2 linked regions of the Homo sapiens genome follow. The protein of the gene in region 2 purifies or fractionates together with the protein of the main gene of each other region. This does not show direct contact. Each region holds a gene or a part of one and is shown on either strand. Other genes may lie near its edges.

Region 1 (2,252 bases), on a different chromosome or scaffold from region 2:
AGAATCTTCAGGTGAGTAGCAAAGGACACCAAGGAAGTAGTCTGGTCAACGCTCACTCAGAGGCAGTAGTGGAACACAGTCCCTATTTATTAAAGGATGGGCCTTTTCTAAGGGCAGCAGAGCTGCTTCTGAGACCATGAGGTGCCCCTTCCCCCTCACCTACCTTCCCTTTATGTTCTCACATCAGACATATCTTATCTCCCTTCTAGGTGACTCTGATCCCTACTCATGACACGGAGGTGACTCGTGAGTGGTACCAACAAACTCATGAGCAGCAGCAACAACTGAATGTCCTGGTCCTGGCTAGCAGCAGCACCGTGGTGATGCAGGATGAGTCCTTCCCTGCCTGCAAGATTGAGTTCTGAAAGAGCCGCCCTCCCTTCCCCAAGGATCCACTCCCCCAGCTCCTTTAGAGAATGGCTACTGCTGAGTCCTTTGGGGTTGAGGGAGATGGGAGCTAGGGGGAGGGGAGGGAGATGTCTTGTTGTGGGGACTTGGGCTGGGCTAAATGGGAGGGGTTGTCCCTCCCCATCATCCATTCCTGTGAGGTGTCTCAAACCAAAGTTAACAGGGAGAGGATGGGGGAGGGGACAAATTAGAATAGGATAGCATCTGATGCCTGAGAACCCTCTCCTAGCACTGTCAAATGCTGGTATTGAATGGGGACTGAGGATGGGTCTCAGAGAGCAACCTCCTCCCTCGTAGAGGGAGATTATATCCCCAACTCCAGGGACCTCTTTATCTCAATCTATTTATTTGGCATCCTGGGAGGGATTTCCAATAGTAATTTATGTGACCTGGGGCAGGATACCGTCAGTGAGGTGCCCAGAGCTGCACCCTTTCCTCCATTTCCCATCCCCCATCTCCTCAACCACCAGGGTCTGAGTTCTAGCAGGGTCCTGGGGGTATCCCACTGCTATACTGTTCTACTGCTTCCCTCAGTATCTGAATGTCTCAATTTAAAACTTGAAGCTCTTTAGACCAATAGACTGGTGAGAGGAGAAAGGAGCTTATCCCCCAGACCCTGCTTTATACCATTCACATCCCAGGGCTGTGTCCAGACAGCACAAAACGGCAAGGAGAGCCCAAGCCCCAATGCCAGAATTCTTCCAAACTCCCTGACTCTTTGAAGTTTTTACTCACCCCATTTCAATTATCCTGATCCCTTCTCATCCCCTGCTTGGCTTCTCTGCATGTGGTCATCTGCTGTGGCTTGGTGTTTAATGGGTTAAAAATAAGCCACTGCCTGACATCCCAACATTTGACACCCCAGCAATGTGTGACTCCCCCAACATTCCACTATGCCATCCTGCAGCTGAAATGGGAACACTGGCTGCCTCTCCAAACCCGCTCTTGGACAGAGGATCTGGGAGGTGGAAGCCAGGCCAGAGGACTTGGGGAAAATGAGATGGAGGAAGGAAAAAGGGAGAAGCTGAGCCACAGCTTAACTCCTACAGAGTGAAATGAAAACGGGCTGAAAATACCACCCCAGGAGAGGACCTCGCCCCAAGCAAGCCAGTGAGCAGCCCTGCCAGACTACTGCCAGACTGAGAAACCCAGAAGCTGGTAGTCATGTGGGCTTGCCTTCTCTGCCAAACGACTGGGAAACCAAAATGAGCCCACCTTGTGTTCTTCCTAGCTCCACCCTCCCCGTGCTGCTGTGTTCTGCTCCTCCCCACGCTTCCCTGCTATAGTTCCCAGCTGCTGTAACGGAGCCACCTCCAACTCTAACAATAAACCAAGTTCATTGCAGATAGTGTAGTGCTGCTTAGGCTTTTTCTGACTCCATACATGCTTAGTTACTGGGCCCTGGCTTCTACCTCTCTGCTTCAACCAGTATTGAATTTATCTTGGAAGACTCCAATGCTTTTGATTACTGGAAACACTTGTGCCTGAGTATGAAGAATAGGAGCCTAGGGTGGATACATACATCTGGTCTGGGGGAGGGAAGAGGGGCAGAAGGCCTCCTGGGAAGGGGATATGCATTCCGTGGGGTCAAGAGTTGAGGACCAAATAACCAGGATCAGCTACCCTGGACAGCCTCTTGGGCTAAAGGGGTAAAAAGCTGAAGGACCCTAAGAGATCCAGAGCCTAATGAGGTTGGAAACAACTCTCCTTGTGCAGTCAGGATTTCCATGGAGTAAAACGGTCGACTTTCCTCCTCCATGGAAACCCTTTATAGTCCTAAGTATGTCAGAAGTGGCCAGGTTATGAATGTGTATATTTGGGGAGGGGCATATTCTAGCCCTCCC
Region 2 (4,258 bases):
TTGGGCCGAGGGTTCCCCGGACCCTTCCCTGAACTTTTCCGCAGTTTCAGAGGAGAGTCTGCAAGTGAGAGCTGCAGTGACTGTGCCTTGTGCTTGGCACCCAAGCAGGGCATGGGAGTCTTAAGTGGAACCAGGGCCTCAAGGACAACAGAGAGCCGCATGGCAGGGTAGACACCTGGATAAAGGTGGGTGGGGAAGCCCACTGCTGCACCCCGGGCATGGCTGGCACTTGATTGCTTCAGAGAGCTCAGCAGCAGGTTGGTGGTAGCATGCTTGGCAAGGGCTGGTGTGGATGCTTTGGCCAGTCTGCCAGATAGCGGCATGGGAAGCAGTGTGGCCCGACCTGCAGGCAACCGCATGGCAGTTCGGGGAGCACTGGCTGGAGGTGATGTGGCAGTTGGGTTAGGGGCACGAGCTTGCAGTTTCGTCTGGCTTGGGGGATTAGCTGTGCATGAACTATAGCCATAGACATCACCACTGCGCAGGATGGTAGGTTGGAAGCCATCATCTCGCAGGCCCTGCAGGAAGGCCACAAGCTGGGCCTCTGTGGCACTGAGATCCTGGCTCATTGGGTTAAAGACAAGCAGTGCCTCTTCCAGGGCCTTCTTCCCTGCCGTGGAGATGCGCGACCAGGAGTGCACAGCTTTTTCCTCCACATGCTGAACCACCACACTCATGGCATTAGGCACTGCAGATCTGCCTGGGTATCCGCAAACCAGCGCTTGGCACCTCCAAGACAAGAGGAAAAGAGTCAATAAGAATGGCACTAAGACAAGGGGCCAGAACACATAGACAAGTCAATCAGTGCCCCAATCTCCATGACACTGAGGAATCTGGCCAGAGTGAGACACTTCCTGGTGTAAAACCCTGGTCTCCTGACCCTCTACCATGCTGGGGTGGGAGGAGAGGCTAAGGATCAGGGAGTTTCTTCAAGATACATGCTCAGAAATACCTCAGAGCCATCCAACCTGCTGCCGGGTCCCTGAAAAGATTTGAGCCTGGTACATTTTAATTCAACTCTGTATTTTCTGAAGCCAGAAACCTAGAATTACTCAGCTCTGGGAATACAGGCAATATCCCTGTCCTCAAGGAACCTAGGTTAGAAGGCCAGAAAAAGACACTGTTAAGATTCTTGGGAGTGAATGCTGGCATTCAGCTCAGTTTGCCAATGGGTCAGGAAAGGATTCCTGGGAGAGACAACACCTAGCTAGGATATGAGTGATGAATGAAAAATGATTAGATGGAAATGGAACAAAAAGGGGAATAGCTAATGCAATGGCTCCAAAGTGAGAAAGGGTTAAGGCATACTTGGTGTGGGATCTGGGATCTAGGTGAAAAAACAGGCGAGGATAGAGCAACAAAGAACCCTGAATGTTAGCCAAAGGGCCCAGACTTACACCCACTGTCCATGCCCATCTGTTTCTCCAGCTGCTGCTGTTCATGTGTGGAGCTGGAGTGGGGTGGGGGAATCTCCCTGCCCACCAGAAGTTCTGTTTTCAGTCTCTAGACAGGGTACTCAGCAACCCATTTTCTAGCTCCAGAGGCATGGAGACCTAATCAAGAGTCGGACTTTTCTTCAACAGAAACTAAAAAGCTGATGAGTAGCAGGTGCCAATGACATCTCTCTAGGCAACCAGGCAGACCAGGGACCAGGAAGCCAGACCAAGATCCCAAAGTTTAAGGACAATGGGAGCCAAAGGCTGCAAGTAGGATGGTGAGTCAAGGGGACATTAGCGGTATGCACTGTCCTACCTAAGACTTGGAGGGCCACAGACCTCAGTACAGCCCAGATGGAGGTGACTGAGAACACCTAACTACTCCCAGACTTCTTTAAAGAAGCTGTGGACATCAATCATAACTAACATCTAATACCCAACCCAACACTGAGGGTTCCCAGAAGCAAGAGGCAGCTCCCCAGCTGCACCAGAGCATTAAAAGATCAGCCAGGATCAGGCAGGTCCCTCGGGCCATGAGGCCCGTCTGTGTAGTTTCTTCCCACCGCTCTAATGCAGCAGATGAAGTCTTCAGAATACCCTGGAGGAAATGCCCTAGGGCTCTTTGTTTGGAAACATTCTTGGATCCTCAGGTGTCTTGGGCACTTCCCCTCCCCAGAGACCGTTCTCCAAGCACAATCCTTGCACATGACTTTAGTTCTTTATTAATGTTTTTTGAAGGGATGTAGTTCCCAGAGCTGTGAACTGTAGAAGAGAGAGGGACCTATTTCCCACCCTCACACGCGCCCCAGCGCAAATATTTGGGGTGACCTGGGGGCTCTTCCACCCAGGTTAGGCTGGGCTCTTGGGAGGGGTTTTCTGGGCTTTCGAGAAGCTTCGGAAACAGAGGCTCCTGCCCGGCCTCCGACTTCCCTTCACACGTGCCCCCGGGGAAGGCAGGAGAAGTTGACGGAAGATAGGGCGTGAGAGAGGCGCCACACAGGCAGACCGGGGGAGGGGGCAGATCGGGGCCCTCAGGCTGGGAATGCACGTCCTTAGGGCCCAAGCCGTGAGGCGGGGGTCACTGAGGCAGCGAAATGTACAGGGTGAACGGTGCTAGCCCTACCGGGACCGCACAGCCCCAGGGTGGGGTCGCTGGGCGCGGGGTGGGGGTGGGGTGGGGGGTCTCGGCCAGGCCGGCGGAGGACGCGGGTCCGGGAAGAGTTGGCCGCTTGCCCGTCCGCCCTGCCGCCTCGCGGGCCGCCCCTCCGCGGCGCGGCTAGGCCCGCGGCTCCAACCTACCGGCGCCGCCGCGGGGACCCAAGACGCGCCTCTGCGCCGCCTCCGCTGCTCCAACATGGCCGCCCGCTGCGCGCCGGAAGTGCACTGCGCTTCCGCTTCCGGGACCCAGCCCGCCCTACCGACCCTTGACCCCTGAGACCCCATTTCCCCACAAAGTCTGGGGGCGGAGCAGATTGGGTACCAAGGAGGACTGCCTGGAGGTGGTGGCCGCGGTGACTGCTCCAAACCCGTTCGGCCCTGTGCAGAAGTCTGAAGAACAGAGGTGCCCTCTGACGCGGCCCCAGGCAAGGACTCACTAGAGCCCGGCCAAGACTGGATTAGGGGTCATCTGACACCTTTTCTGAGGGGAGCTAGTGGTGCATTGACATCTGGGAGGGGCTCCTGACAAGGTTCAGGCCATCTTCCACCCTCTGATCTATCTTTAGCCACTGACAATGCCCACTTCAGTCCCAGACACCTGACCAGAGGGTGAAAGAGGAGTGCCTCCTGACAGGGAGTCTCAGGTGATCTCCTTTGTTTTGCAGTAAGGGTATCTTCTCCGAGGACAGCAGGCCTTCCTCTCTTCCTGAGAATAGGGCCTGTGGCACATGGCATGAAAGGCTGGTGTGCACGTGATCACAAGTGGTGCACGCAAGCCCAAGCGCACATGGAGTCTGGGGGCTCCAGTATACCACTGTGGGCCTGAGTATACTTGCTCAGGCAGGTGGGGGCAGGTATAGTCACTGGCCCAGCCTCAGCCCCTCAATGGAAGGAAGTCCTGCTTCCAGTCTTAACACTGCCCAGAACCCCTTTCCTTTTGCCTAGGAGTCTGGGACCTCAGTCTTTTTATCCATGCTCTTGGGCTAGTACGGGGTGGTGGTTATAGGACACAGGTCAAAATCAACCCTAGGGGTCTGTGACTTCAGTGAGAGGTCAGAGTGGTCTCCACAGCTCTGACCAAAGGTCCCATTAGTCAGAGGTTTGCAAGTCCAGGTTGGGAACCATCCTGGGAGCCCTGGTTTCATGGATGAGGTAGTGGGGGCATTTGCACTAGGGTCAGAGCCTGAGCCAGGAGGCAGAAATATTGCCACAACTCTTGGACTCTGACCCTTGCAGTGGTGCCTTATTTGGTAGTTGGGGTCAGGTGGAAGCCTATTGGCAATCACAGGAGGGTGGCGGGATGCTTCATTTAGGGACTGGGTACTAGCCCTTTTTCCTGCCCTTTTTCCAACCAGGATCCTCTGGTTGCTCTGTATTTTCCCTGCTTATACAGAGGGGTCCAGGCACTCCTAAAGACAAGTGCCTAGTCCACCCAGCAGTGCCATAGGCCTCATCTGGTGCCTCTTAGCTTCCCAGGGCCTCAGCACTAATGGTGAGGTCCTCGCTGCTTTTAAGTATAGCCAAGGTATCTAGCAGGAACTGCAAAATCTCCTGTTCCTCTGGGGTCAGTGCTTCTAGCCTTTTTTTCCTGGTGGAGAGAAAGCAAGAGTAGGGTCCCAGGGGCCAGGATCTCATGGGGTGCAGTCAGGAAGCCCCACCTTGGT

Evidence for each region.
Region 1: the proteins of CCDC71 (region 2) and MAP1A purify together in Homo sapiens (affinity purification with mass spectrometry; one large-scale study listed by BioGRID and IntAct). This does not show direct contact.

What each region holds. Positions count from the first base shown.
Region 1 is NC_000015.10:43,529,860-43,532,111, forward strand, and holds the end of MAP1A (microtubule-associated protein 1A), read left to right. Parts: coding exon 1-11; intron 12-209; coding exon 210-365; 3' UTR 366-1,752; downstream 1,753-2,252. UniProt on the Homo sapiens protein: Structural protein involved in the filamentous cross-bridging between microtubules and other skeletal elements.
Region 2 is NC_000003.12:49,163,532-49,167,789, forward strand, and holds the start of CCDC71 (coiled-coil domain-containing protein 71), read right to left. Parts: upstream 2,801-4,258; 5' UTR 2,736-2,800; intron 730-2,735; 5' UTR 678-729; coding exon 1-677.